Regions from separate parts of the Homo sapiens genome. Here region 1 is linked to region 2. The links come from fine-mapping of genetic effects on gene expression. A gene starts in region 2. The other region holds a variant in brackets. All regions are shown on one strand. Distances are between the middles of the regions. Region 1 has its middle 76 kb from the start of ZNF280B. Region 2 holds the start of ZNF280B (zinc finger protein 280B).

Evidence for each region. PIP is the estimated chance that this variant, and not a neighbour inherited with it, causes the effect.
Region 1: its variant is fine-mapped to the expression of ZNF280B in lung (TOPMed, PIP above 0.99).

The regions. Positions count from the first base shown.
Region 1 is chr22:22,424,090-22,440,451 of GRCh38, forward strand. It overlaps IGL, the pseudogene IGLVI-38, IGLV5-37 and IGLV1-36. Among named protein-coding and RNA genes, the nearest start is that of ZNF280B, 76 kb to the right of the region's middle. The variant G/A (reference allele first, on the strand shown) is at 8,598.
Region 2 is chr22:22,499,453-22,515,814 of GRCh38, forward strand. ZNF280B (zinc finger protein 280B) reads right to left here and starts at 9,290. Exons shown (of 4, transcript NM_080764.4): 1 at 9,207-9,290; 2 at 8,358-8,418. ZNF280A (zinc finger protein 280A) reads right to left here. Exons shown (of 2, transcript NM_080740.5): 2 at 14,284-16,249. The coding sequence starts at 16,178. The coding sequence ends at 14,550. It also overlaps IGL.

The DNA of each region.
Region 1 (16,362 bases), 75 kb before region 2:
GGCTGAGGCAGGAGGGTCGCTTCACCCCAGGAGTTCAAAGCTGCGATGAGCTATGATTATGCCACTGCACTCCAGCCTGGGTGACAAAGTGAGACCTTACCTCTAATAACAAAAACAGCCATAACAAATTCATAAGAATAGTGTAAAATAAGGAGAAACCTTGGCAGACAATAACCTAAGAGATATCTCAGACATAGTGAACTAATGTGTTTGGATGACAGAAGAACCCCACACTTGGCTGGCTGTGGTGACTCAGGCCTGTAATCCCAGCACTTTAGGAGGCCAAGGCGGGCAGATCACCTGAGGTCGGGAGTTCCAGACCAGCCCGGCCAACATGGAAAAGCCCCGTCTCTACTAAAAATGCAAAATTAGCCGGGCGTGGTGGCGCAGCCTGTAATCCCAGCTACTCGGGAGGTTGAGCCAGGAGAATCACTGGAATCCGGGAGGCGGAGTTTGCGGTAAGCTGAGATGGAACGAGCCACACTCCATGCAGGAAGACGACCAGGGAGGACAGCTGCAAAGCAGGGAGAGGCTCCCCTTTCTTTAAGAAACAAAACAAAAGCAAACAAACAACTAACCTGACCTCCCCTCTGGCTCCCATCCAACATTCTTACTAGCTTCTCATCTAGTCTTTTCTGTAGTGTAGCCCATCCTTACCCTCTCCCCTCCCACATCTCTGATTCCTGAATTCCCTTCTTGGGTCTCTCTCCTTTTCCTGTCAACCACTTCTCCCCTCTATCATCCTGAGTTAATTATCAAGAGCTTTATAGCAGGAAGCCTATTGGTATTTTTCCAGATTTTTTTTCTTGGAATTGGACATTCATACATTTTCTCTCTTTTTTTGGGGGGGTAGGGTGGGGTGGGGGTGGGGGTAGGGACAGGGTCTCACCCTGGTTGCCCAGGCTGTGGTCTCAACTCACTGCAACCTTCACCTCCTGACTCAAGCAATCTTCTCAGCTCAGCATCCCAAGTAGCTGTGACTATGGGCACGCACCACCACACCCTGCTAATATCTTGTATTTTTGGTAGACATGGGGTTTCCCCATGTTACCCAGGCTGGTCTTGAATTTCTGAGCTCAAGTGATCCACCCTCCTCAGCCTCCCAAAGTCCTGGAATTACAGGCATGAGCCGCTGTGCCCAGCCTATTTTTTCTCTTTTACGAGCCTCTCTGATTCCCTAGTTCTGAAGTAGCCCAGAGTTGGCTGATTCTCCTATTTTGCCTCAGCTAGCACTTCCTCCTTCTCCTTTTTTTTTTTCTCCTTCTGATCCCTGGAGTCCTCTGCATTTCCACTGAATCCAGTGAACCACACAAGCATGCTCATTTATTCTCCCCAAACTCCACCACTCTGCCTTATGTGCTGATCCAGTGAGAATCAAGAAGGAAGAGAGACCCATGGATTTCTGTGCAGCCTGGAAAGTCAGTTCATGGCTGGACTTGGCTGGGACACCAGACACCTGTCTCCCTGTCTCTATTTAGTATTCATAGGGCCCAGCAGCTGCATCCTCCCAGGGTGCCTGAAGAGTCACTGACCATGCTCTCCTACCCAGCCTCAAGAAGCCACCCAGTCCTCGAGAAGTATAATCAGACTCAGCATCTTATGTGAAGGGAACAACCATGGGGACAGGTTAGACTTGCATTGAGTCCCCTCCTCTAAGAAGGGCCAGGGAAAAGGGGCTGTTCCCCCTAATCTGTGTGGCTCAGGAAGTAGAGCTCCAGAGACTTCTCTACCATGGCCTGAATCCCTCTGCTGCTCACCCTCCTCAGTCTCTGCACAGGAGGCTGGAGATAGAAAGGCAGGGACTGGCACTGGGAGGACCAGGGCTCTGCCTTGCTCCCCCGGCTCACCGAGCCACTTCCCACACCCTGTGTCTCTGTCCTGACTCTTAGGGTCCTGGGCAGTCAGGGCTCACTTGGTGGCCTGCACAGTTTGTCTGTGACTAAACCAGCCACCATCTCCTGCACTGGAAACAGCAGCAATAACGTCCTTGGAATTGTGTCCTGGTACCAACAATGAACAGGAAGTGTCCTTAAACCTCTGATCTGTGGATGTAAATATCCACCTGCAGATCCAGAACTGATTCTTGAGTGATCAGTCTGGCAAGGAGGCCTTCCTGAGCATATCTGGGCTCCAGGCTGAGGACAAGGCTGATCATTAACGTTGGATTTGGACAGTTCTCTGGAGGCCCCCACGGTGCTGCAGTCTGTGGGGAAGTGAGATGGGAACATTTCAGGTCTCCTAGGAGCACGACCCGACAGCACCACCTACAACTGGGAAAACTGGGCTGTTTACCATTTGTGTTCATGTTTGCTTGGGCTGGTGCTAGCCAGGGCCCAGGTCTCAGGTCAGGGACAGTGATTTAGAGAATGCAGCTTTGTTTCCTCAGAGTCAGCCCTCAGAGAAAGCCCATAGCAACAGCATTGTCAAATTGCCTCAAAAAAAATCAGAAAGTCCTTGGTTCCTGGAACAGGCTGCCCTAGGAACAGAGCCCAAATCGGTCAGAGCAAGCAGGGACACAACTGTGCAGAAAACAACAAGTTTTACTTAGGGAGATAACGGTTGACTGTATAAAATGAGAAATATGTCACACTACTCACTTGTAAAAGTAAGTTTACCAATGCTATTCATTTCCCTATATCACTACGTTGAGTAAAAACTCTAAAATGTATGAAACCACTGTAGAGATAACTTTTGCTGAATTGCTACTTTAACATGTCATGGATCATTTATTTTTCTTGCAAAATTCTCATTATTCACCGTCCTTTTGAGTAACCCCCAGCTGCCCTTCAACCTAGCTCCTCAGCTGACCTCTTCTCCATGATGCCTACCCTGATGGCACATGTGGGCAGTTAGGTTTTTCTAGATTTTAAAAGTTATATATGTACATGTCTACATCCCATGGACCAAGACTCACTCTGGGAGTGAGAAATCACAATAATCATGCATAGCCTTATGGAATTAGTGTCTAGCAATCAGACCATAGAGGTGTGAATAGAGACAGTGACTAATGAGCTGCAGAGATCAGCTGGGCCATCAGGAGGTAAGTGTCCTCTAACCAGCATGGGATGCTGGGGGACTGCCCTATGGTCCCTACACAGCTGCTCAGTAAGGACCATTCACTCAAAGAAATCCAAGACTAGGGGCTAAGACCCCGTGCTCACTGAGGGGTACTTAGCATCTATGTCCTCCCATGGCATGGCAGAGTCCCCTGAGCAGGAAGGTGTGTATGGTTTCAGTAGGTGCTTTCTTCCGGAGCCCTCTCAAGGGGAAAAGCAAAACTTCTTCCTCCTCAGTCTGCAGTGTGAGCTGAGCTTCAGCCCCAGAGCTTAGAGAGGGGCTGGGCAGTCCCTGGATGAAAACACATTTGCATGAGCAGCCCCTCCTCTGCAGAGTATGGGAAGAAAAGGAGGCCTGGGGCAGCCCAGTCCCACTGTGCATGTCAGGCTGTGTCCACCATGGCCTGGACTCCTCTTCTTCTCTTGCTCCTCTCTCACTGCACAGGTAGGGACAGGCCTCAGAGATCAGGGCCAGCCACCCAACCTGATTCTGGCTCTTCTGGTAAAGATCCCTGAAAAACCTCACCCTGAACCCTGCCCATCAACCATGAGTGTCTGTGTTTGCAGGTTCCCTCTCCCAGCCTGTGCTGACTCAGCCACCTTCCTCCTCCGCATCTCCTGGAGAATCCGCCAGACTCACCTGCACCTTGCCCAGTGACATCAATGTTGGTAGCTACAACATATACTGGTACCAGCAGAAGCCAGGGAGCCCTCCCAGGTATCTCCTGTACTACTACTCAGACTCAGATAAGGGCCAGGGCTCTGGAGTCCCCAGCCGCTTCTCTGGATCCAAAGATGCTTCAGCCAATACAGGGATTTTACTCATCTCCGGGCTCCAGTCTGAGGATGAGGCTGACTATTACTGTATGATTTGGCCAAGCAATGCTTCTCACAGTGACACACACAGATGGGGAAGTGGGACAAAAACCTCACCCTGCTTTAGGTCTTGTTCTTAAAAAATTTTAAATTTTAAAATAACTGGCCTAGGCACAAACTACATTTGGAAGTACTTTCTAGTTGTAAAAGGCTCTTCTCTCAATTTCCCATCCATTCGTCTGAAGTCTCAGTAAAACAAAACAAAACCAAAGCAACTGATGACACTGAAGTCTTGGCTGGTTGTCATATGTGCTAACACCACTGCCTGTGGAGCTGGACTTTTGTTCTTGAAAGAAGCAAAATGAGGCTTTCCTAGCTCACATCATGGTCAGAGCCTGGGGACATCCTAGCAGGTGAACAGTGCCCTGCAGCATGGACTCTGCTCTTCCAGCGTACGGGCAGAGACCTCCCCTTCCATCCCCAGTAGTCTGTTCTCAGGGCTGTCTGTGGCTCACTGTGTCCCAGGAACAAGGCACTCAAATATGAAATGCTGCCTGAGGACACAGGTCAGGGAATTCTAGATATAGTGCTGACCTGGCTCAGTCCTGGGTACCTGCATTTCAGTGGCAATGTCAGGAGATGGGGTTAGGTATTAGGGTAACTGGGGACCTGAGACCAGTAAACCTCTATGTAGGACATGACAGGAGAGTCAAGGGGAGGCTCCACTGTGGCTGAGACAAGCCAGAGGCTGCTCCTTGGCCACGGGGGAAGTAGGTCCCATGGATGTGACTTTCCTGCAGCTCATCCCACTCAGGACCATGGGGACTGCTGAGCGTGGGTTTCTTGATCCCTCAGCGCCTGTGTTCTCTTCTCCTCTCTTACACCATTGGAGCTTCTTGCTGAATCAGGGTCTAGTGGTGAGTATGTGGAAAGACCACCACATCTCAAGGTCACCTTTTTCTGCATGGGGAGCAGCAGAAACATTGGGCATTCCCGTGGAAATGGCTACGGAGGCCTCCCAGAAAGAGCCCCCAAGTTTATGACCTAGGACAGCAGTGATGGTCCCTCAGGGGTCCCAGCCTCATTCTCCTGCTCTGGGTTTATCCACACAGCCTCCTGGAGCACCTCTCGGCTCCAGCCTGAGGACTGGCTGGTTATCAGTGTCACACAGCTGCATCCTGACTCCATGTTACCAAGGGTTCCTGTTCCATGTGGAAATGAGAGAAAGATCTCCCCACTCATCCTGTCTCCCCATCCCTCCTTTATCCCTGCCTGTGACCAACACCAGTTCATGCCAAGACTTCGGCTGTCACTTGTGTTACTGAAGCAGAGCACAAGTTCAGTAAAAATAATCCCTTTTCTTACTGGTCTCCCAATGCAAACAGAATCAATTTGTTTCTAGAAGCAAAAGGAGCTGCCCACACATGGTGGGTGGGGATGAGGTAGGGACAAGAAAGAATCCACCCTGTGTGACCCAGAGGCCCAGAAGCCTTTAGTCTGGTTCCAAAGGTGTCTCCTCCTCTTGGTGCAGTTATGCTGACCATTTCCTGAGCTCAGAAACTGTGCGAGAGATGCCAAGAATGAAGAATCCAGCCTGTGTGACCCAGAGACCCAAACGTGAGACAGGAAGTCTGATGCTTAAGAAAACGTGGGTTCAGCATTCTGAAAGGTCTAGATATGGCTTGGCCTAGAGCTGGTGTAGAAGAGAAGCAAGAGAGATGCTCAGCCTTAGGTGGCCCAGGCACAGCGGTCCTGTCAAGGGGTTGAGCTCTCTGCAACATGGATATCCTGCAGAGACATACTTGGGAGGCTGTGATCCCAGAATGACACAAAAATGCTAATGGAAATGAGCAGGGGATTGTTTATGGGGGAATGGGGAGACAGGTGTGGGATAAGATGTGGTAAGGAGAATGCAGCCTGAAGAGGAGACTGTCCATTGTGACTCATAGGAGGAGTAGGGCCGGGGCCTACAGTAGTGATAAAAGGAGGACCTGGAAGGACCTGGGCCCTGAAGACACACAGAGACTGGAGTTTTGGTCTGTCTGTGAGGGTCCCATGAGGATAAAAATCCATGGTCAGTGTCCTCTGTCCAGGGCTCACTGTCCCAGCTGTTGTCCCTCCTGGATCCTCTGGGTGTCCAGATTCCGTAGCTGTGGACCTGTTCTCCTCTCTGTCCTCAGCCTAAGAGCTGATGGGGCATCCACCAGGAAGCACATCTGTGGGCAGGGAGGGGGCCATGGGCAGCCTTGTCCTGTATGTGAGGCACTGCTCAGCCTCGGTGATCCCTGTTCATTAACGTGGGAGGAAAGGAAAACAAAATTCACTGTGAACATCTATGCATCATCAAAGAAAAAGCAATGAGCCAAACAGGAAGTGAAGCCCAGCTCTAATAGTTTGTTTCTACTTGGAAATAAATAAAACTTAATATGCCTGATGTGTTACGTAAATGCAATAAACATTTTTTGAAAGCTATAAAAATTATGTAAAGGAACATGGCTTACACTAAAAGGAACACTTAAAATAATGACACCCTTGAAATGCAATCCCAAAACACAGCATACATTTTATTTCAGTTCCATATATGGACTGGTTTTATTTAAATGTCTATATTAAATCTCACTATTCCATTTTTAAATGGAGCACTTAAAATCTCATTCTACGGCAACTGCCTGGTGATACATTCACCAGTGGAAATATCAACAAAACCATCCAGCTGTTTTCCTCCATCCCCATAGAATTCCCCAAACTAGTAATTATTAAGAGCCCAGGATGTATCATGCCAGAATTCATGCAGTCATAGGCATAACCTGTTTCATTTTTCATTCTGATCAACAGAATTACAATTTTTCTTAAGCTTGTTTTTAGCTTATTAGATTCTAGTTGTCATTACAGATCAAAGATAAATAATTTTCTATCATCCTTAAGCCACCCCCATAACACTCACTACTGAATTTGAACCATAATTTTTCCCTAAAAATCCTAGTTGGGGTGCTTGATGTTGAGAGCTAACACGTATCAGGCTCACCTGAGGACAGACTCTGGTTAAACCAAGTTAAAATTTTAATTCTTCCCATCTTCAAAGACTGAGCATCTTTGCTCTTTTTGTTCATAAGTGAAACACTCCAAAGTCATTTGCCAGGATCCCCTGCAGATGAGCATTTAGTGTACAGACTCCTAGGCAAGATCCCTGGTCACAGTATCCAGATGACTATGACTGCAAATCTGGGGAAGTAGAGGGAGAACAAAGATTTACCAGGAAAACCCTCTGGGAATTCCTCCCCAGGGAATCCTAGAGGAAAGAGCTCCCTTTCTCCTCAGCGCCACAGGATCCACAGAGGAAGGAGAGCTCTAGCCACCAGGAAGGAGCCACATGAGAGGAGAGGACCTGGTGTCCAACACAGGTGGGGAGGTGAGTCCATGGGGCTGGTCCCTGCTATGGGCTTGATCCTGACATAGGACTTTATGTAGATACCACCTGAGTCCTCTACAATGTACAGCCAAAGAGCCATGGAAAGATTCACTCCTGAGGAGTCTGAAGACTCCTCAGTAGAGCGTGAAGATAGCCCTGAAGTCACAGGGAGGAGACACAGACACCACTTGGCCTGCCTTGGACCTGAGAGAGGGGGCAGTGGACAGAATGGGGGGAGGAAGCCATGTATCTGAGAGGTTCTGGTCACCTTATCATAGAATGGTTTACCTTGATCTGGACACCAGAGGGCGCATGGGGATCATTCCTGAGAAGACAGGGGTGATCAGAGCAGAACCAGCCGCCTGCCCTGCCTGGTGTCCTCTGCTCAGGGCTCACAGCTGTGTCCTCCCCACCCCCTGGGACCACAAAGCTCCACCCCTGCCACCCCCTGACATCCTCAAGCCAAGGAGCCTGACCCAGGGCTCAGGGTGGGGTCACAAACCTGGGGGGGGTCTGATTTGCATGGATGGACTCTCCCCCTCTCAGAGTATGAAGAAAGGGAGAGATTTGGGGGAAGCTCAGCTTCAGCTGCGGGTAGAGAAGACAGGACTCAGGACAATCTCCAGCATGGCCTGGTCCCCTCTCTTCCTCACCCTCATCACTCACTGTGCAGGTGACAGGATGGGGACCAAGAGAGAGGCCCTGGGAAGCCCATGCGACCCTGCTTTCTCCTCTTGTCTCCTTTTGTCTCTTGTCAATCACCATGTCTGTGTCTCTCTCACTTCCAGGGTCCTGGGCCCAGTCTGTGCTGACTCAGCCACCCTCGGTGTCTGAAGCCCCCAGGCAGAGGGTCACCATCTCCTGTTCTGGAAGCAGCTCCAACATCGGAAATAATGCTGTAAACTGGTACCAGCAGCTCCCAGGAAAGGCTCCCAAACTCCTCATCTATTATGATGATCTGCTGCCCTCAGGGGTCTCTGACCGATTCTCTGGCTCCAAGTCTGGCACCTCAGCCTCCCTGGCCATCAGTGGGCTCCAGTCTGAGGATGAGGCTGATTATTACTGTGCAGCATGGGATGACAGCCTGAATGGTCCCACAGTGCTCCAGGCCCAGGGGGAACAGAGACAAGAACCCCCTTCCTTTTCTGCCAGGAGGGTGAGCCCCGGCTGCTGCTGCTCAGGCCTGGCCTGTGGCTTCTGCTGCTGCAGCTTCCCCCATGGGTCCAGGGATATCCAGGGCCCTGCCTGAGAGTGGAGGCTCCTCCTCCCCTGAGTCCTCAGAGTCAGGAACAGGGTGTCCAGAAAACAAAAGCAGG[G/A]TGTCCTGCTCCCTGTAGCTTGGGACACAGGGTCTCTGCACTGAAGTCCTGGGCTGAGGTGGCAGGTCCAGCTGTGTCATCACAGACCCACTTCTGTTGGGGAACCTGTGTCTCCATCATCCTACTTTTTCCATTTCCAGGAGTTTCCAGAGTGGTGTCTTCCTCCCCCTTCTCCTCAGTGTGAATCCCTGTGCTTCCTTTCTCTCCAGCCTATTCTTTTTTTAATAAAACTCCTTTCATGTAGGAATAATGCACATATAATAAGCCACCCATATTTACAATAGGGAATGAGACAAATTTTGGCATTTCTATGGATCCTTGAAAACATCACCACCACCGGGAGCTATACAACATACAACCTGTGACCAACCCCAATAGCTCCTCATGACCCTTGTCACCTCATTCCCTCCCCCAACACCCTCCTTGGAAGTTGCAGATCTGCCTCTGTCACTACTGTTTGGTTTCTCTTTTCTGGAATGTATCAGTGTTATCAAACATTATCTTCCCATTTGTTCAGGCTTCTTTCACTCTGCACACTTCTTTTGAGATTCTCGCTGTTGTTGCTGCATTGTACCCATCTCGTAGAGGGCTCCTTACTATCTTTGAAGGTCCTTAGGCCATTTTTTTCTGATTTTATTTATGTATTTATTTTAAAGTTTGAATTTATTGTGCATCCAAATCAAACTTTAGGGGCAATGTTCATCTAAGGTGACAGGACAGTCTGTGATGGCTTGTCGGGATTCTTGCTTCTTCATCTCTTGCTTCTGATTCTCTCTATAGTGGAAGAGGTTCTCGTCTTTCATTTATTTATATATTTATTTATTTACTGATTTATTTGGGTTTTTAAGGGTTTTAGTGATTTTTCTCTTTTTGGTTATTTTTCAATTTTTTTATTTTAATAGGTTTTTGGGGGACAAGTGTTGCTTTGTCACATAAATAAGTTCTTTAGTGGTGATTTCTGAGATTTTGGTGCACTCATCACCCAAGCAGTGTACACTGTACCCAATGAGTAGTCTTTTATTCTTCACCCCCCTCCTACCCTTTCTCCTGAGTCCCCAAAGTCCATTGTATCATTGTTATGCCTTTGTGTTCTCATAGCTTATCTCCCACTGATGAGTGAGAACATACAATGTTTTGTTTTCCATTCCTGAGTTACTGCACTTAGAATAACAGCATCCAGTTCCATCCAGGTCGCTGTGAATGCCATTATTTTGTTCCTTTTATGGCTGGGTAATATTCCATGGTATGTGTATGTATACATCACATTTGCTTTATCCACCTGTTGATTTATGGGCAGTTGGGCTGGTTCCATGCTTTTACAATTGTGCTGCTATAAACATGCGTGTGCAAGTATCTTTTTTGTATAACGACTTCTTTTTCTCTGGGTAGATACCTAGTCGTGAGATTGCTGGATCAAAGGGTACATCTATTTTTATTTCCTTGAGGAATCTCCACACTGTTTTCTGTAGTGACTGTACTAGTTTACCTTCCCACCACCAGTGTAAAAGTGTTTTGTTTTCACCACATCCATGCCAACATCTATTATTATTTTTATTTTTTGATTATGGCCATTTTTGTGGTAGTAAGGTGGTATCACATCGTGGTTTTGACTTGCATTTCCCTGATCATTAGCGATGTCAAACATTTTTCTATATGTCTTTTGTCCATTTGTATATCTTCTTTTGAAAATTGTTTATTCATGTCTTTAGTCCATCTTTTGATGGGACTGCTTATTTTTTTTCATAATTTGTTTGAGTTCTTTGTAGACTATAGACATTAGTCATTTGTTGGATGTATAGATTGTGAAGATTTGCTTCCACTCGGTGTGCTGTCTGTTAGCTCTGCTGATTCTTTTGCTGTGCAGAAGGTTTTTAGTTTAATTAAGTCCCATCTATTTATCTTTGTTCTTGTTGCATTTGCTTTTGGGTTCTTGGTCATGAAGTATTTGTCTAAAGTAATGTCTAGAAGGGTTTTTTTAATGTTATCTTCTAGAATTTTTACAGTTTCAGGCCTTAAATTTAAGTCTTTGATTCATCTTGGCTTGATTTTTGCATAAGGTGAGAGATGAAGATCCGGTTTTATTCCTCTACATTTGGCTTGCCAATTATCCCAGCACCATTTGTTCAATAGGATGTCCTTTTTCCACTTTATGTTTTTGTTTGCTTTGTTAAAGATCAGTTATTTGGCTCCATTTCTGGATTCTCTATTCTGTTCCTTTGGTCTACGTGCCCACTTTTGCACCAGTACCTTGCAGTTTTAGTGACTGTGAGTCAAATTATGCTAGAGTATAGTTTGAAGTTGGGTGATGTGATGCCTCCAGATTTGTTCCTTTTGCTTAGTCTTGCTTTGGCTATGCAGGTCTTTTTTGGTTTCATATGAATTTTAGGATTGTTTTTTCCAGTTCTGTAATGAATGATGGTGATATTTTGATGGGAACTGCATTGAATTTGTGGATTGCTTTTGGCACCATGATCATTTTCAACATATTGATTCTACCCATTCATGAGCGGGGGATGTGTGACATGATTTTTTCAGCAGTGTTTTGTAGTTTTCCTTGTAGAGGTCTTTCACCTCCTTGGTTGGGTATATTCCTAGGTGTATTTTTTTGCAGCTATTTGTAAAAAGGTTTGAGTTGTTGATTTGATTCTCAGCTTGTTCACTGTTATTGTATAACAGAGCTACTGATTTGTGTGCCTTACTTCTGTATCCTGAAACTTTGCTGTATTTATTTACCAGTTCTTTTTTTTTTTTTTTTTTTTTTTTGAGATGGAGTCTCGCTCTGTCGCCCAGGCTAGAGTGCAGTGGCGCAATCTCAGCTCACTGCAAGCTCCGCCTCCTGGGTTCACACCATTCTCCCACCTTAGCCTCCCGAGTAGCTGGGACTACAGGTGCCTGCCACCATGTCCGGCTAATTTTTTGTATTTTTAGTAGAGACGGGGTTTCACCGTGTTAGCCAGGATGGTCTCGATCTCCTGACTTTGTGATCCGCCTGCCTCGGCCTCCCAAAGTGCTGGGATTACAGGCGTGAGCCACCGTGCCTGGCCATTTATTTACCAGTTCTAGGAGATTTTTGGATGAGTCTTTAAGGTTTTCTAGGTATATGATCACATTATCTGCCAACAGCAACAGTTTCACTTCCTCTTTACCAATTTGGATGTCCTGGATTTGTTTCTCTTGTCTGATTGCTCTGGCTTAGACTTCCAGTACTATGTTGAATAGAAGTGGTGAAAGTGGGCATTCTTGTCTTGTTCCAGTTCTCAGGGGAATTGTTTCCAACTTTTTTTTCCTTTCAGTATAATGTTGACTATGGGTTTGAAAGAGTGGGCTTTTCTTACCATAAGGTATGTCTCTTCTATGTCAATTTTGCAAAGGCTTTTAACCATGAAGTGATGCTGGATTTTGCCAAGTGCTTTTTCTGCATGCATTGAGATAATCATGTGATTTTTGTTTTTAATGCTTTTTATGTGGTATATCACATTTATTGACTTGCATATGTTAAACCATCCCTGCATCCCTGGTATGAAACCCACTTGAACATGGTGGACTATGTTTTTGATAGCTGTTGGATTTGGTTAGCTAGTATTTCATTTATTATTTTTGCATCTATGTTCATCAGGGATATTGTTCTGTAGTTTTCTTGTTTTGTTATGTCCTTCCCTCATTTTGGTATGAGGGTGACACTGGCTACAAAGAATAATTTAGGAAGAATTTCCTCTTTCTCCTTCCTGTGAATTAGTGCATTAGTCAGGGTTTTCTAGATGGACAGAACTAATGGAATCTGTATATATATAGCATGATCACAACATCCCACAATAGGCTGTCTGCAGGCTAAGGAGCAAGGAGAGCCAGTCCGAGTTCCAAAACTGAAGAACTTGGAGTTCCATGTTTGAGGGCAGGAAGCATCAAGCATAGGAGAAAGTTGTAGGCTGGGAGCCTAGGCCCATCTCTCTTTTCATATTTTTCTGCCTGCTTATTTTCTAGCCATGCTGTTAGCTGATTAGATTGTTCCCACCCAGATTAAGGGTGGGCATGGCTTTCCCACCCACTGACTCAAATGCTAATCTCCTTTGGCAGCACCCTAACAGACACACCCAGGATCAATCCTTTTTATCCTTCAATCCAATCAAGTTGACACTCAGTATTACTCATCACAAGTCCACCCCTTGTCAACTTCAACCCATATATATCTTCTGAGATCATACATAATCTTCAAATAAAGACAATAATAAGGTCATAATGACACCTAACATAATACAACTATCATTCATACAAACAGAAACACATCAATCCCCAACCCAAATACTGTTACATAAAGTTAACGATACTTAAACGCTGATGTGAAGTCAATAAATCTTATGTCACATGATAAAGGAGAAAGGAAATAACATGAAGATATTTTCTTAGGACAAAGGTATACACGCACAAACATGTTTTTAACAAAAGAAGGAGGAAATACTCATGACAATTACACTCCTCGTTTCTGCAGCTGGCCATAGCTGGTATTGATGATTACTTTCTTCTACTATCCATTCTGTATTCTGTATTCCCTTTGCCTTCAGCAAGCACCTCAGCAGGTCGTGGATATTTTTCCAGATGGTGTGATCCAAATCTTCATTCCTGAAGCATCTGGTTCATTTGTAGTCCTGCCTGGATAGGGCTGTTTTAGTTTTCCATGGACCTTAATCACAGGGCATGATAATACTAAGAAATGCCCTAATGGATCTCCTGTATTCCATGCATACTCTTCCTTACCTCCGTTATGGAGTAGTAAACTGATTTCATCTTGATAGTCTGTCCCAAACACCCCAGCCAACACTGTAACTCCCTTCTTAGCCTGTTGACTTAAAGGTAGGAGGAGCCCAAAGTGTCCAGGTGGCAATCTTAACTTCCCCAGTTTAATGGAATCATTGATGTGTCTCCAAGTGGCAGTGTTCCTTCCTCTGGAACTAAATCCTCTAAGCCAGCAGAACATAATGTCGTGGGAACAGGAAGCAAAAATTTTGCTAGTGGATCACTAGGGGTGATGGTGAGTGCTGCCACTTCCACTTCCACCCCTTGATTCCTAGACTCATGAATCCTGGCTATGGGAGAAACAGTGCCATATATTGGATGCTGACTCAGAGCATACACGCCTTCTGGGGAACTTAGCCCCAGCACTGCAAAGTATTGTCACCTAGTTGACATTGTAATTGTGACTTCAAAAGGCCATTCCATTGTTCTATCAATCCAGCTGCTTCAGGATGATGGGAAACATGGTAAGACCAGTGAATTTTATGAGCATGAGCCCACTGCTGCACTTCTTTATGAATAAAGTGAGTGCCCTGGCGAGAACAATGCTATGTGGAATACCAGGATGGTGAATAAGGCATTCCATGAGTCCACGGAGGATGGTAGTCTTACAGGCAAACCCATATCTGGAATAAGTGTCTATATCAGTGAGGACAAACCTATGCCCTTCTCATAATGGAAGATTTCCAATATAATCAACCTTCTACCAGATAGCTGGCTGATCACCCCAAGGAATGGTGCCATATCAAGGGCTCAGTGTTGGTCTTTGCTGCTGGCAAATTGGGCACTCAGCATTAGCCATAGCTAGGTCACCCTTGGTGAGTGGAGAGCCAGTTCGAGTTCCAAAACTGAAGAACTTGGAGTATGATGTTCAAGGGCAGGAAGCATCCAGCACAGGATAAAGATATAGGTTGGGAGGGTAGGCCAGTCTCTCTTTTCACATTTTTCTGTCTGCTTATACTTTAGCCATGCTGGCAGCTGATTCGATTGTGCCCACACAGATTAAGGGTGGGTCTGCCTTTCCCAGCCCACTTACTCAAATGTTAATCTCTTTCAGCAACACCCTGAAAGACACACCCAGGATCAATACTTTGTATCCTTTAATCCAATCAAGTTGACACTCGGTATTAACCATCACAATTAATGTCATAGGATTAGTACTAATTCTTCTTTGAATGTCTGATAGAATTCAACTGTGAATCTGTCTGGTCCTGGCTTTATTTTGTTGATTTTTTTTAAATTACCATTTCAATCTTGCTGCTTGTTACTGGCCTGTTCAGAGTTTCTATATCTTCCTCATTTAATTTGGGAGGGTTGTATACATTCAGAAATTGATCCATCTCCTCTGGGCTTTCTAGTTTATGTGCATAGAGGTAATCAGAGTAGCCTTGAATAATCTTTTATATTTCTGTGGTATCAGTATTAATATCTTCTGTTTCATTTCTATTTGAGCTTATGTGGATCTTCTCCCTTTTCTTGGTTAATCTTGCTAATGGTCTATTAATTTTATTTATCTTTTCAAAGAACCAGTTTTTTGTTTCATTTGTTTTTTGCATTGCTTTTTGTTTCAATTTTATTTAGTTCTGGTCTAATCTTCGTTATTTCTTTTCTTCTGCTGGGTTTGGGTTTGCCTTGTTCTTGAGTCTCCATTTCCATGAGGTGTAACCTTAGATTGTCTATTTGTGCTCTTTCAGACTTTGTGATGTACGTATTTAATGCTAAACATTCCTCATAGCACTGCTTTTGCTGTATCCCAGAAGTTTTGATAGGTTGTATTAAGATTTACTACAACTGCAACCTTACTATTGACCAATAGCTTTTTAATTCCTGAGAGTGTGACCTCATTTATGCCCAAAAACAACTTTATGATTGCTTTTCATGCAGTAGGCCATGATTAGAGAGGGAGTGCTTGTGGCCTGGAGGTAGGGTTCTCCAATTTATCAAATAAAAACATTGGAGTGCAGTTAAATTTGAATTCGGTAAAACAATGACAAAGAATTAGTATGTGTATCTCCCACATGATATTGTTAAATTGAAATACAAATTTACCTGGGTGCGCTGTAGTTTATCTACCAACTCCTCACAGGCTTCGAGGCTTGGAAGAGGCAGTGTTGGGGCTGGTCTCCTCTTACTGATGCCAGGTCTATGAGCTGAACCTCAAAGGCAGAGTCTCTCTAACACAGCTACCCTCCAGTGAGCATGTTAGTTAGCACTAAATACACCATATACGATTTCCAATGAATAACACCTACTCACTTCCCTAATTCTTCTTTCTATTATTCTCCAAGTCTGCAGACTTAGGACCTCCCCAGGGGTTGCTGCAGCCAGAGCTCTGGATGAGGGACCTCATAAGTCTTTCAAAACCAGATGCAAGGGGACTACTCGGTCCCCACACAGTGAGGTTTAAGCCAGGGGTGCATAAGCAACATGTAAGAGACAGAAGAGCTCAGTATGGCTCTTATGGCTCTCCTTCTGTCCAGTGAGAAAACTCCAGGGTCCTTTTGATGCTGAAGGTGGGTGGGCTGAGAGTAGGAGGAGACCCACCCTGACAGCCCAGAGATTCCAGGACAAGACTTGGCAGCCTGAAAAGGGGCCACACTCTTGAGTGGGGAAGAAGGAGGCAACTCTGCTCACAGGCGTGCATTTCTGGTGGCTTCCCCTTTACCAAACTGGACTCCCTACTCTGATGTCTATCAGAGAATCTCCCTCAGTGAGACCAAGATCCCAGGACATTGCTAAAAACAGCAGCATGGACCAGACAGGTATGTCATGGTACAGGAATTCTTTGCAGAGCAATAAATACAACTGCAGCTTAAGAGGGGCCCTCATAGTCATAACTTTGGTGAAGAAGAAAATAGACAAAGGCAGGGAGAAACTGAAGGGCTCAATAGGTCTGAGACTGGGGCAGCACTGGGTGCTATAGGCTTGTCCTTGAGGGGCTGCAGATAATGACAGCTGGGAAGCCATCATCTGTTCA
Region 2 (16,362 bases):
GACATGGTTTCTCCATGCTGGTCAGGCTGGTCTCGAACTCCCGACCTCAGGTGATCCGCCTGCCTTGGCCTCCCAAAGTGCTGGGATTACAGGCGTGAGCCACCATGCCCAGCCTATACCATTTTAATAAAGGACAAAAACTACACCTGCCTGCAGAAAAAACACTTGACAAAAGCTAACATCCTTTTATGATTTGAAACAACAAAACGATTGGGAATAGAAGGAAACTTTCTCCACCAGACAAAGGCATCTGTATGAGACTCACAGCTATTATAGTATCATACTTAATGGTGACACTGAAAGTACCCCTGCCCCTAAGATCAGGAACAAGACAGATATCCACTTTAACCACTTCAACTCAACACCGTACTAGAGGTTCTATAGCCAAGGTAATTAGGCAAGAAAAGGAAGCAAAAAGCATTCAGATTGGAAAGCAAGAAGTAAAACCATAATGGAGATGACAAATACAAATAACTCAATTTTTTAAAAGGCCAAAGAACTTGAATAGACATTTCTCCAAAGATGATACACAAAAGACCAAGTAAATATATTCAGTGTCATTAATCATAAAAGCAATGCACATTAAAACCACCTTGAGATACCACCTCACACCTAGTAGGATGACTACTATTAAAAAACAAACATTGTTGGAAAGAAATTAGAATCCTCATGCACAGTCACTGGATTGTAAAATGGTATAACTACTATGGAAAACAGTACAGAAATGCCTCATAAAATTAAAAACAGAACTACTATATGTTCTAGCAATCTTACTTCTGGGTATATATCTAAAATAATTGAAAGCAGGGTCTCGAAGAGATACTGGCACACCCATGTTCACAGAAGGACTATTAAAATAGCCAAGGGGTAGAAGCAACCCAAATGTCTACCCAAAAATGAATAAACAAAATATTATATATATATATATGCACACACACACAATAGAATATTATTCAACCTCAAAAAGGAAGAAAATCTGTCACATGCTACATGTTTGAACCTTGAGGATATTATGCCAAATAAAATAAACCAGTCACAAAAAGACAAATACTTTTGTATTTGTATAATTCCACCTATATGAGGTAACTAAAATAGTCAAATTCATAGAAACAGAAAGTAGAGGCCGGAAGCAGTGGCTCACACCTGTAATCCCAGGACTTTGGGAGGCTGAGGTGGGCAGATCATCTGAGGTCAGGAGTTCGAGATCAGCTTGGCCAACATGGCAAAACCCTGTCTCTACTAAAAAAAATACAAAAATTAGCCAGATGTGGTGGCAGGCACCTATAAACCCAGCTACTTGGGAGGCTGAGGCAGGAGAATTGCTTGAACCCAGGAGGCGGAGGTTGCAGTGAGCTAAGATCACGCCACTGCACTCCAGCCTAGGCGACAAGAGAGAAACTCTGTTTCAAAAAAAATTAGCTGGGCGTAGTGGTGGCACACACCTGTAGTCCCAGCTACTCGGGAAGCTGAGGCAGAAGAATCCCCTGAATCTGGGAGGCAGAAGTTGCAGTGAGTGGAGATCGCACCACTGCACTCCAGCCTGGGCAACACACCAAGACTCCGTCTCAAAAAAAAAAAAAAAAAAAAAACAAAAAACCAAAAAAACAAAAAACAGAAGGTAGAGTAATGGTTACCAAGGGCTAGGGGCAGAGGAAAAGGGTGAGTCTGTTGTTTAATGGGCATTGTTTCAGTTCTGCAAGATGAAAAAGTTCTAGAGATCTGTTTCACATCAATGCTTGAAACTACTGAACTATTAATTTAGAAATGGTTAAGGTGGTAAATTATATGCGTTTTTACCACAATAAAACAATTCATTTTAAAAACAGGCCCCAATCGGCATGGTGGCTCACGTCTATAATCCCAGCACTCTGGGAGGCCAAGGTGGGAGAATCACTTACAGTCAGGAGTTTGAGACCAGCCTGGCCAACATAGCAAAACCCTGTCTCTACTAAAAATACAAAAATTAGCCGGCATGGTGGCACGCGCCTGTAATCGCAGCTACTCGAGAGGCTGAGGCAGGAAGAATCACTTGAATCCAGGAGGCAGAGGTTACAGTGAGCCGAGATCATGCCACCACACTCCAGCCTGGGCGACAGAGTGAGACTCTGTTAAAAAAATAAAATAAAATAAAAAATAAAAAATAAGCTAGACACAGTGGCTCATGCCTGTAATCCCAACACTTTGGAAGGCTGAGATGGGAGGATCGCTTGAGCCCAAGAGTTGAAGATCAGTCCAAGCAATGTAGTGAGACCCCTTCTCTACAAAAAATTTAAAAACACAGGCACAGTGGCTCATACCTGTAATCCCAGTATTTTGGGAGGCTGAGGCAGGAGGACTTAGTCAGCTCAGGAATTCCAGACCAGCTTGTACAACATAGTGAGACCCTACCTCTACAAAAAATTAAAAAATTAACCGGGCGTGGTAGAGTGTGCCCGTGATCACATCACTGCACTACAACCTTGGTGCCAGAGCAAGACTGTCTCAAGAAAAAAAAAAAATTTAAATTTAGCTGGGCATCATGGCACACGCCTGTAGTCCCAGCTACTCAGGGGTGGAATGAGGCAGGGTGGCAGCTGAGATGGGAGGATCACTGGAGCCTGGGAGGTTGATGTTGCAGTGGGCCATAATTGTGTCACTGTACTGCAGCCTGGGCAACAGAGCGAGACCCTGTCTCAAAAACAAACAATAAAAAATGGGCGAAGGATTTGAACACTTCTCCAAAGATACACAAATGGCCAAGCAGCACATGAAATGCTGCTCAATATAGTCATTAAGGAAATGCAAATCAAAATCACAATGAGCTATTACTTCACATCCACTAGGTTAGTTATAAGCAAAAACAATCTCAAGCGTTGCAGAGGATGTGCAGCTATCTGAACCCTCAAATACTGCTGGTGATAATATAAACTTGTACTTTGGAAAAGTTTGGCAATTGCTCAAAATTTAAATATGGCGTTACCATATGACCCAACAATATCACTCCTAGGTATATACCCAAGAGAATTGAAAATATAACACATATATAAGCTAGCTGGAATATAGCCATAATGCTGCTACAAAGTGCAAACAACCGAATGTAAATTAATTGATAAATGAATAAACGAACTGTGGTATATCCGTACAATGAAATACTATTCAGCCATAAAAAAACTAAGTACAAACAAGCATACAATACGGTGTACCTTGAAAATACACTAAGTGAATAACACCAGACACAAAAGGCCGCATATTTTATTATTTTACTTATACAAAATGTCCAGAATAAGGCAAATTCATACAGACAGAAATAAAGTAGCAGCTGCCATGGGCTCGATGAAGAAGAATGAAAGGAATATAGCAGGTTTGAAAAATGGCCCCCAAAATATCAGGTCCTAATCCCTTAAGCCTGTAAATGATACCTTATTTGGAAAAAGGATCTTTGCAGATGGGAAAATTATCCTGGACTATACAGGTGGGCCCTAAATGCCACCACAAATGTCCTTGTAAGAGAAGCAGAGGGAGATTTCACACATACTCTAGGAAAAGGTGATGTGAAGACAGAAGCAAAGATTAGAGTGACATGGTCACAAGCCAAAGAACGTCACATCCACAAACTAGAAGATGCAAAGAATGGATTCTCCGCTAGAGTTTCCCAGGGGAGGACAGCCCTGCCAACATCTTGATTTAGGTCTTGTGAAACTTATTTTAGACTTCTGACCTCCCGAACTAAGGGAGAATAAATTTTTGTTGTTTTATGCCACCAAGTTTGTGATAATTTGTTATAGCAGCTATGGAAAAGTAATATAGGGAGTGACTGCTAATGGATACAAGGTTTCTTTAGAGTTGATGAAATGTCTTGGAATTAGATATTGCTGATGGTTGTACAATTTTGTAAGTATATAATACTAAAAACCATTCAATTTCACACCGCAAAGGGTGAATTTTATGGCATATGAACTATATTTCAAAGAAAAACAAATGCCTAGTAACAGGCTGGTATAACCCCCCATCTCCCAACAACTGCTGCTAAATTTTCAAAGCACCATTAAGCAGACTCAATTCGTAGCAAGGATAATGGAACAATGCAAGCTCATCTAGCGAACAAAAAGAATTAAGCTAGTATCAGGTGGTCAATTTACAAACTGTAGTGGGAGTCATACATTCCCAAGGATGGAACAGTTATATCTCCTTGCAGAGTGAACTCTTCTCCGATACCAAGGACTTGGAAGACCAAATAAATTATACGTAGGATTACCAAATATGCTGGTATGACCAAGACAGTTATAGTTTAAACTTCTATCTCTGTGGAATTATGGATAGTGCCACTCTTCAATCTTTAATAAGTCCTTCAGTTTAGATGATAAATTACATAGTCAACCTAGTTATAAGGAATCTAGAGGTTGTGAAAAGCTGTGAGAGCATATTCTATGCAGACCACATAGGTCCTATCATGACTCCCTATGTAACTTGGGTCTCTGCGACTGGGAAGCTCCCAGGGAAAAAACCCCAGTTAAGACTTCTGCAGAGCATTCACATTTTGTTTCAAACTTATACAACACTAATGCTAAAGCTCAACTCTCAGAATTGTATTATTCAGTATTATCCAAATAACTGATTAATTTACACACTGAAGGGAAAGAACAAGGAATGGACCTAAACACACTTGTAGTTTACAAGTATAAGAAGCTAACAAAGAATAAGATTAAAATAACTTGTGCCAGGCCGGGCATGGTGGCTCACGCCTGTAATCCCAGCACTTTGGGAGGCTGAGGCAGGTGGCTCACGAGGCCAGGAGTTTCAGACCAGCCTGAACAACATGGTGAAACCCCATCTCTACTAAAAATACAAAAACTTAGCTGAGCGTGGTGGCACACGCCTGTAATCCCAGCTACTCAGGAGGCAGGAGAATTGCTTGAACCCGGGAGGCAGAGGTTGCAGTGAGCTGAGATTGTGCCACTGCACTCCGGCCTGGACAACACAGCAAGACTCCGTCTGAAAAAAAAAAAAAACAAACAAACAACTTGTGCCCACATTAACTAGGTGTTAAAAGCCAAAAGGTGAAAGTCACTATTCTCTTTTCACATATCAAATTGACCCTAAGGTAATATTGCTGCATTAGAACTGAGCTGGTGGGAGGGATGTTAAGAAATTAGGGAGAAATTGTTAATCTACAGAAAGACCATCATATAAGGTTCTGTGTGTAGCCAAACATACACATTTGATGTTCTGATGTTTGCTATTTTAGTGGAACTATAGCTATAAAATGTATTCAATCAGTAGAATTAAAACATATCCCAGTCCACAAAAAACTAAGAGAGAAATTATACAGGAATGATCAAGAATCTGCACAGTTCTCATAATCTCATTACTACAGAGAAAAGGAGAAAGGGAAGCATCAAGGTAGTATTTGAGACGAATTTAAGAAGACCACTCATTCAATAAAAGTTTGGTGGGCCAACAAGGTGCCATGTATTGGTCTGGTGATATAGCAGTGATCCAAAGTCTTTCACTTCAGGGAGCTGACATTCCAGAAGGGGTAGTCAGAAAATAATTTTTTTAACAAAAGTAACATGGTTATATAAACACTAGGGAGAAAAATAAAGTAGGAAATGGAGGCAGGTTGATACTCACATAACATGAATATGGCTATCTGGGGAAGAATACTCCAACAAAGGGAACAGCAAACACAAAGCCTCTGAGACTGGAGCACTTAACACATGCAAGGACTGATCAATAGGCTAACACAGGTGGACCAATGAAAAGAGTGACAAGTTAGAAATGAGATAAAAAATGAGCTGTTTGTGGCAAAGGAAAGCCAAGATCATGTAGGCCATTCTAAATTCTTCAGCTTTGGCCAGGTGTGGTGGCTCACATCTGTAATCCCAACACTTTGGGAGGCCGAGGCGGGTGGATCACCTGAGGTCAGAAGTTCGAGACCGGCCTGGCCAACATGGTGAAACCCCGTCTCTACTAAAAATACAAAACGTAGCCAAGTGTGCTGGCACGTGCCTGTAGTCCCAGCTACTCGGGAGGCTGAGGCAGGAGAATTGCTTGAACCCAGAAGACAGAGGCTGCGGTGTGCTGAGATCATGCCACTGCACTCCAGCCTGGGTGGCAGAGCAAGACTCCATCTCAAAAAAATAAATAAAAATAAAAATAAAATAATAATAATACAAAAATTAGCTGGGTGTGGTGGCGGGCACCTGTAATCCCAGCTACTTGGGAGGCTGAGGAGGAGAATCACTTGAACCCAGGAAGCAGAGGTTGCAGTGAGCCGAGACTGCGCCATTGCACTCCAGCCTGGGTGACAGAGCGAAACTCCATCTCAAAAAATAAGTACATAAATAGACAAAAAATAAAAACAAATTCTTCAGATTTTACCCTGAGTGTGATGAGAGATTACTGGAAGGCTCTGAGTGAGAAGTAATATGATCTCACTCATTTCATTAGGATTGCTGTGGCTACTGTGTGGAGAATAGACTTTAGAGAGTAATAGTGGAAGCAGAAGACAAGAAGCTACTGAAATATTATGAACAAAAGATGATGGTAGTATCAGACAGGATGGAGAAATAGAGATACTAAGAAGTCGGACTCTAGATAAAAATCTAGAAGGCCCACAAGGTTCATTGATGGATTGGGTTTGGGATGTGAAGGAGAGGAGGAGGACACACAAGAGGTAATGCTGAGCAGGTAAATCTATGAGATCAGAGCCCAAGGAAAGTTCCGAGGTAGGTACTTAAATTTTGAAGTCTTCAGTATGTAGCATTATTTAAAACACAAGACTGGATGAGATCACTCAGGGAAAAGAGGTCTGAGATCTAAGCTCTGGAGCATTCCATTGATTAGAGGTCATGGAGATGAGAAGGAGCTGGTAAAGGAAATTAAAAAAAAAACAATTATTCACAGCCATTCAGGTGGGAGGAGAATTGAGAAAGAGAAGCATCCCAGAATCCAATGGGGAGGAGAAAAGGAACTGTAATATATGCTGCCAATAGATCAAATAAAATCACGAAAATCAACTAAAACTGACCAATGGATTAAGCAAAGTGGAATTCATTGGTGACCTTGACAGCAGTGGGTTTAAGGAAGAACGAGAACAGGAGATAGCAAATACGGACAACTCTGGAGAAATTTTCCTGTAAGGACAAGCAAATACAAATTAAAACAAGCAGATGGGAGATGTGGCATCAAAAACGAGATCTTTAAGGTGAGGTGATGGTACAATCAGTATGTTTGCTATATTAATGATCTGGAGAGATAGAAAACTTAACCCTAGACAAAGAGAAGTCTTGCTAGAATAATATCCTTAAATAAACAAGTGCACATGTAGAGGTTCTGGCCTTAGCAAGAAGTCAAATTATTCACCCAGAGTAACAGGACAATGCTTTGAGATCCTATGGAAAAGGGTTAAATGGTGGATAAATGGTTGCGGTGGCCATCCTCCAAGATGGCCCTAAATGAATCCCACTTCCTGGAATTCACATAGTTGTAGCCCTCTCCCACTAACAGGGTTGGCCTGTGGGATCAAGCACATACAGCAGGAAGTGATGGTATGCCACTTCAGAAATTAGGTCATAAAGACTCTGCCCTTCATCTTGGGTACAAGGTCTCTTGAATCATTTGCTCTGAAGTAAGCCAGCTGCTGTGACATGAACAGCCCCATGGAGAGGCCCACAGAGCAAGGAACTGAGGCCTCTTGCCAACAGCCCAGTGAGTGAGCTTAGAGGCAGATGATCCAAACCAAGTCAATTCCGCAGAGACTGACAATCCAGCCAAGGGTTTCACTGAAACCTCATGAGTGACCTTGAGCCAGAAACAGCCAGCTAAGCCACTCTTGGATTCCAGACCTTCAAAAACTATGAGGTAATAAATTTTTTTTTAAACTACTAAGTTTTGAGACAATTTGTTACACGGCAATAGATAACTAATACAATGGGTCTCACTGAGCTGTAATCACAAATTGCTGGGCACACAATTCACTATAATCTCACCTACTGGCATGCAATGACTTCAGATGACCTCCCCTGTCCTGCTGCATGCAGTTACCTCATGAAATACAGTCGCTGAGAAAGAGGGTAGGATAAAAGGAGTCAGCTTTATATAACTTAACATCCCTGATGCTCTTTTTTTTTTTTTCAAGAGATGTGGTAAAAGAATGCCACTACCACCCTCTCCTTTCTCAACAAAGCAATTTAGAGGGTTCCCGAATGACCTACATCAACAATTGGCCTGAACTAATCAAACACATCATTCAGATTCCCTCAGTAAAATATTGAATACCAAACAGCTATGTTTCAGCAAAGGAAAGGGCAGGGGAGCGAAACTGAAGGACGAAAATACAACTTTGGTCCTCATCAGGGAGACTTCTCTTTTCTTACCTCAGGTTTATTACAACGCAACTTTTAAGAACTTGAGCTATTCCAGGCAGAAGGTCACATCCTTGAGGTAACCAGAGAGAAGCATTAGTTACTTACATGTCACAAGAATATTTTCGATCCCACTGCCTGACATTGCCATTTAGGTGTTTATCAATCATCTCACACTTAACCAGATAAGTGAACTGAACTCCTTTCCCCCAGATCTGTTCCTCCAATCTACCCTACCTTAGCAAAGGAAAACGTCCCACCCGCCAACTGCCCAAATCAAAAGCCTGCAAATCACCCGAGGTCCTGGCTCTCACGGGAGGGACTCCATTAGGGTCCCAGGGGCTGCATTAAGAGTCCCGACAGCGACGCAGTAAATGAGACAAGACGCTGCGGTAGGGGAGAGAGACCCATACATTCAAATGCCTTAAGGGGTCTGGGCCTACAGGTCTCCAGAACTGGGGAGGGCCTGGGGTTACAAAGCAGTTTTCAGATTTTTAAATACATTGAGCGCCAAAAGAGACCCCGCGGGGGCGATGGGGGAGGGGAGCGCACTGGGAGCCAGGAAAGGCCCCTTCTCCAGGAGGCCCGGGCCCAGCCCGGGGGTGGGGGCGTCTGCGTGAGGGAGTGGAGGCTGATGTAAAAGTGGCGCCCGCTGAGATTAGGGAAGGGGGTGTGCGTGAGGGGATCGTGGGACCTGCTTCTGCCCTGCACTCCCCCACAGAAAGCGGCTGTATTGCAAAGGCCGCTCCGGCAGCGCACGGCCAAGCGCGGTGTCGCGACCCGCAGGGCTGCGGCTCGCCATGAAATCCCTCAAGTCTCCCCTCAGGGAACGCTGAAGCCGCGCCACGCCCCCGTCCTTACCAGTCCGGATCAGCTGCTGTTCGCGAGCTGCCGGCCACGCACCAGCCCCGGAGGCGCTCCCGGGGCACAGCCGGCGGCGACTACGCCTCCTCAGGCCCCCGGCGCCGCCGACGCGCACGCCTCCACACGCGCGCGTCCAGTGGAGACCTGCGATTGGCTGCCAGGTGCCGGCGCGAGATCGGCGCGGCTCCGAGCTAGGAGCATGCGCGCGCTCTGACGCCCCTGGTGGCGACGGCTGGACGCGGGGTTAAATTGAGAAGGAGGAGGGCAGCAGCAATACCCCTGAGGCCTTGAAAGGATCTTGGGTTCCGGATCACGGTTCCAGGCAGTCAGGGTTCCAGAGCTGAGGGGGTATCCAAGCAGTCAGGGTTCCAGAGCTGAGGAGCATCCAGGCAGTCAGGGTTCCAGAGCTGAGGGGCACCCAGGCAGTCAGGGTTCCAGAGCTGTCGCAGCCAGGGCTTGGGGTGGGGGGTAGGCTTCCAGTCCATCAGGGGATGGTTTGCCCACCAGAAGGCCAGCTGTTATAATTCTCAGGTGTGGTCCCTTTGTTGACTATCCATGCTTAAGGGATTGTGAGGAAACAACTGAACCTAACATCTGTCCTCTTCTAGTTACATCTGGGGCCAGTTGAATCCAGCCTGCCACCTGTTTTTGTACAGCTGGCAGCAAGCTAAGAACCGATTTCACGTTTTTTTAATGGCTAAAAAGAGAATATTTTGTGGCATGTGAAAATTATATGAAATTCAAAATTCAGTGTCCATAAATAAAGTTTTATTGGAACAACAAACATGCCCATTCCTTTCGGTATTATTTATGCCTGTTTTCCTGCTTCAACAGCAAAGTTGATTAATTGCCAGAGACCATGTATGAAAAGCTTAAAATATTTACTGTCTGGCCCTTTACAGAAAGTTTGCCCACTCAGTTTACTTGCAGCTTTGATTTTTTTTTTGAATTGACCAATTCTGCCAAAAGTCTATTTTAGCAATCTTTTTGGGGGGCGGGTAAATCGCTTTTGGTTTAATTAATCTATAATGTTATTTTCTTATCTATTTTATCTATTTCTTCCATTCTGTTATTTTCTTCCTTCGTGACTTCATAGGCTTGTTCTGTTACTTCTCATTACAACTTTTGGAGAAAAATGCCTACCTCGTTTGCTTGTAAACTTTTTTGTTTCTCTTGTATTTAATGCTATAAATTTACCTTTAAGTACCAGTTTAACTGTGTCTCACCAGTCCGCTTGGTAATATGTTCATTATCCTTCAATTAGATATGTCCTAATTTTGCTAGTTGTTAGAAATGCTTGTTCCCTGGTGCCGCAAAGAAATAGCACTTGAACATAAATTTAATTTTCTCAGCAAGGCCATTTTCACTTTCTGCAGAAAGGGTACACTCGCCAGCAGTTTTGCCACGAGAGTACCCCAAACAAAGGATACAGGGTTATTTATAACCTGACGCATCCACCCTACTGCTGTGTCCGGTTTCCATTGGCTGGAACAGGACCTCACATTCTGTGTTTGTCCCGATTGGCTAACAACTTAGAACTTTCTAAAAGAGGCAAAGGCAGAGGAGAACAAAGGAAGGAGGATGTAACTTGTAGAATGCTGAGAAAGGTAAAAACACCTCCAAATAGGAAGAGGAACAGGCTATGACCTAATGCTTGCTTGGACCAGTATAAGCATGCAAGGGCAAATATTTAGGCTAAATTGTGGGAGCTAAGAACACAAAGTATATTAATTTCTTTATTACGGCTAGCAGATATCTAAGAATGTTAGCACAGGTCTTTGAATAAATTTTACTTCTAAGAGAAGTTACTATTTATTCGTAATTAGACAGGGAGGAAAGTCTTTGAAGAGGAACCTCTATTTTTTACATAGTGATTCTTTCTAACACAAGGGTTATATAGTATATGTTATTTATTTTTGAAATCTATGAGATTTTTAAAAGATTTTTTAATTGTATTATAATCAAATCACATGGCCTAAATATTACTCACCCTTGCATTTGAAGATTTCTGTTCAGTGAAGTGTACCATAGTCAAAATGAAGAGATCATAGATGTAAAGAAGATATTTGCAGTATCTAAAATGTATATATGAGGCTGATATGTAAAGATATTTGCATTATCTAAAATGTATATATGAGGCTGATATGTAAAGAAGATATTTGCAATATCTAAAATGTACGTAAGAGGCCTGGCACGGTGGCTCACACCTGTAATCCCAGCATTTTTGGAGACCAAGGCAGGCAGATCACTTGAGGTCAGGAGTTCAAGACCAGCCTGGCCAACATGGTGAAACCCCATTTTTGTACAAAAAATACAAAAATTAGCTGGGTGTGGTGGCACGCGCCTGTAGTCCTAGCTACTCGGGAGGCTGAGGCATGAGAACTGTTTGAACCTGGGAGGCAGAGGTTGCAGTGAGCTGAGATTGCACCACTGTACTCCAGCCTTGGGCAACAGAGCGAGACTCCGTCTCAAAAAATAATAACATGAAAAATAAATCTATGAGAAATGATCTTCTTTTGGCTTCATAATAATTCCAATGTCCATCAGTAAATTAGTATCAACTAAGCTCCAGGCTTTATTCAAATGTCACTAGTTTTTCCCATCATCCTTTTTGTTCCAGATTCCCACCCAGGATACTGAATTGTACTTGGTCATTTTGTGTTCTTAGCCTTCTGTGGTCTGTGACAGTTTCTTAAACTTTTCTTGCTTTTCATGACCTTGACAATTTTAAGAAGTAAAGGTCAGGTATTTTTCAGAGTGTCTCTCAATTTAGGTTTGATGTTTTTCTCATGGTTACACTGGGGTTATGGTTTTTAGAAGACTATCACAGACATGATGTGTCTTTCTCATAATTTCTCATCAGCGATCCATGCTATCAATAAGACTTCCTACTGGCTTCTCCGCTGTAAATTACTTCCCCCCCCTTTCATACCTTATTCTAAATCTTGCCTACATGCAGGAAGGCCGTGAGGTCTCATTGAAGGAAAATTATCTACACAAGTTACTTTGCAATTCTTCTTTAAGGAAGATTTGTCTCTTCTTCCTTTAGTTTTAAATTAATCAAAAATAGCTTTTTAGTTTTAAATTAATCAAAAATAAAATAAAAAATTTAGTACCTCAGTCATACTTGCCACATTTCAACAGATCAATAGTCACCTGTAGCATATTGGACAGAGCAGAAGTAGAGCATTTTCATCATTGCAGAAAGATCTACGGACAGCACTGACTTAGATCATTAGTCAACCTTTCTTCTTCCCAAATATATGCATTTAGAAATATAAATTCCCATGAAATGCTTTAGTTCCATCCCATAAATTTTGTGGCTGTTTTCAATATCTTTCAGTTCAACATTTTCCTTTTTTCACTGCAATTTCTTAGAGGAGCTATGGGTTATTCAGAATGAGGACCAGGACTGGGGTGAGATAAGCAAGGAGGCTGAGGCACATTAAGGAGAGACCCACGCCCAGCTTCAGGTATGGCATATTGTCACCTTAGGTTCCCTGCTTGCCTCACCCTAGTCCCAGCCCTGTTTAGAAATGTATTGCCTAATTTAGGAACTTTGGGTTTTTTTTCAGTGATCTTTCTGTTACTGATTTGTAAGTTGATTCCCGTGTACTCAGTGGGTAACTACAAAGAGCCCCACAGCTAACATCACAATTAAAGTAAACTATTCTACCTGAGTTTGAGACCAAGAAAAGCACACCCATGAAAGCCACTTCAATTCGCAAAGCATTTGGAATAGCCAAGGCAATTTTGAACACCAAAGTTGGAGAAATGAAACTACCACACGGAGGATTATGCAAAGCTACAATAATTAAGATACTGCAGCATTAGCACAAGGATAGAGAACAGGACAAATGAAATGAAATAGATTCCAGAAACACATATATACAATCATACCTGATTCACAGTTTCCACGGCAATACAGTAGGGAAGGAGTGGTCTTTTTAGTAAGTGGTGCTGATTGATTTTGGGTATGTATATGAAAAAATTAGTCTTCATGCCTTATCACACCATTAACAAAAAATCAGTTTGAGATGTCTCATCAAAACAGTAAAGCTTCTAGAACATAGAAGGAATATCTTTATGTCGTTTGTAGACAATTTCTTAAATAAGACTCATGAAAGATAAACCATAAAACCACGATTTAGATCCAAATATGGGACATTTCCAGTGCCCCAGCACCCTTCCCAGTCGACAGCCCAGTTTTTAAAAAGGTAGGAGGGGGCAAAACTTGAATAGACATTTAATAAAAAGAAATACTCACGTGGCCGATAACTATATAATCTCAAGGTCCATTAATCATCAGGGAAGTGCAAATTAAAGCCACAATAAGGTACCACTACAATTTCAAGAGAAGGGCACTTACTAAAAGGACTGACAGTACCAAGTGCTGGATCAGTAGCAATGGAATTCGCAGTATCGGTGGTGGGAATGTAAATCGTTTCAATCACTCTGGAAATGTATTTGGCAGTATCTACACTAGACAGCTAAATATATGCAGTTCCAGCACTTCTCATAGCTATATATACCCACGAGAAATGATTACATGCTTACCAAAAGACACGCACAAGCTCATAGCAGCTTTATTCAAAATTGCCAAAGAATCAGCCTCAAAGTCCATCAACAGTGAAATAAATTTATACAAAACTGCCACAGTCACTCAACAAAATTCTACCCAGCAATGAAAAAGAATGTGCTACTGCTACACACAGCAAAAATGCATCTCACTTATTTTATTTCATTTTACTTTATTTTGAGACAGTCATGCTCTGTCACCCAGGCTGGAGGGCAGTGGCGCGATCTCAGCTCAGTGCAAACTCCCCCCTCCCAGGTTCAAGCGATTCTCCTGCCTCAGCCTCCCGAGTAGCTGGGACTACAGGCGCCCACCACCACGCTTGGCTAATTTTTCTATTTTATGCAGAGAAGGGGTTTCACTATGTTGGCCAGCCTGGTCTCAAACTTCTGACCCCAAGTGATCCACCCACCTCAGTCTCCCAAAGTGCTGGGATTACAGGCATGAGCCATCACACCCAGCCATCTCACTTATTTTAAAAAGCCAAAGACAAGAATCTTTGTGTGATTCCATTTATTTAAAGTTCATGAACAAGAAAAACCTCTGAGGTCAGAATAAGGGATGCCCTGTTGGGAGCATTTGACTGGGAAAGGGCTCAAAGACTTTGGAGCTACTTCTTGACAATAGGGAGCTGATGAGATGTCACTGTAAAAAACAACCTGACAGTTGATGACATTGCTTGCTAGCATCTACAGCCACAATGCACATATGGCCTAGCCTCACTTCTGCCTTTCGGAACTCCTGGAAGTCAGTCGAACATATTTTCAGCTAGAATCCTTGCTGCAAGGGAGTCTGGAATCTCTAGTGTTCATAGCCGTCTTCTTTTTAGTTTTTACAGGAGAAGACTGAGGGTCAGTGTTGCTAACAATAACGGAAGCCATACCACTTGATCCTGGCTGAACTGAAGTTTGAATAATAACTTTTGTTTCACTAGGCAACCCTTGCAGTTGCTCCGGCTTTTTAAATGTTTGATGGTCCTTGGTTTTGTGCTCTATTTCCTCCTTCAACGTCAAAAACTGTAGCCGGCACTTGGAACACTGAAGGACCCTCCTTCTGCTGTGCCTCCAACAATGATTCATGTATGGTATTGCAGTTTTGAAAAGTTTGAGACAAAACAGACAAAGCAAATTCTTTGTGTTTTCATGGCACGTTCTAAAATGTGTTTCCACATCAGCAAAGACCGACGATCTGTAATGGCAAACCTGGCACACATAAGGCATTTCGCCAGGCTTATGATGGTCCTTCATGTGTTGTAAGAGGACCTGATCTGTTTCAAATGACAATTCACAGATTTTACAGACAGCAGAGGGCCCCATGGCGATGTGTACACTATCAATGTGACACTGTAGCTGGAAGGGAGTGGGAAACTGCCGGTGGCAGTGCTGGCAGGTGGTGTGGTCTTCCCAGCTGTCGTTCCTCTGCTTCTCAAATTCCAAATGATGCTTCATGTGATTCATAAACTTAATATTTTTTAGAACTTTCACGCAGCTGAGGCATTTAAAGGTGGTGTGAGTCTTCTGTTCCGGCTGCCCATCTCCTTTATGCTGTCCATAGTAAAAGTCGCTAAGTAACACGATGGGATTTTCTTTCTTGGGATCAAAGGTCTTGTTTTGACTTGCTAGACTTGAAATGTCTGTCATTGCCAGGGCAGACTCACTTGCTCTCTCTGGATCTGTAAGATTGAAATGTGCCTTTCCATTAGCATCAGGCCAAGGAAATGTTACTCCATTCTGAACATGGTTTGATGAGTTGCAGATCCCCTGTGAGGGTGTATTTGTGCTTATTGTAGAAGACATATCTGAAGGGACCACAGCTAAAGAAGGTACCCCTGGGATTCCATCCCTGAGTTTAACCCTTTTGGAATCTCTGCTGTTTATATCTGAAGTGGAAAGTCGCTTTGAATCAGGAGAACTCTCATTTCTGCCTCCTCCAGAGACCATAGCTCCAACTAGACACTGAGTCCCTGGGGGGAGCGAGTCTGAGGAACTGGGAGAAACAACTTGTGGTGAGCTCATTTTATAACCAGGTTCAGATGAAGACTTCATAGTGACAGGACTATCTGTCGATCGCCCCTCAGACAGAGAAACCGGCATGATGGCTTTTGCCATAGAGGTCACATGATTTGCAGGCTGCGACACGTGAGCAGGATATTGACGGAAGTGGCCTTTCTTTCTTCTTGAATTTGAGCCTGGGGTGACTCTGTTCAAAATGTTTGAAACGACTGGTTTTGAATTTGAAATCATCCCGACAAAGAGAACTTCAGCATCTCTATGTACATGCTCCACCCCAACATAGATCAGATCTGGATCTTCATCATCCTCCTCCCTTTGTTTGGATTCTCTCAAATTCTTCTTTGGTGATTCCACTTTCTTACACAAAAAGATATCTCCCATTTTCAATTTACTTTTTGCTTGAAGCCACTGGTCTCTTCAACTTCCAGAGCTGTCTTTTTACAAATTGCCACCTAAGTGCAACCATGTGACAATAGTCAATATTTATTTCGAAAGACAAAATCATTACTTTATTGTATCCTCCCTTAAAACACTGAGATAACCATCAACATCTCTATTTTACACG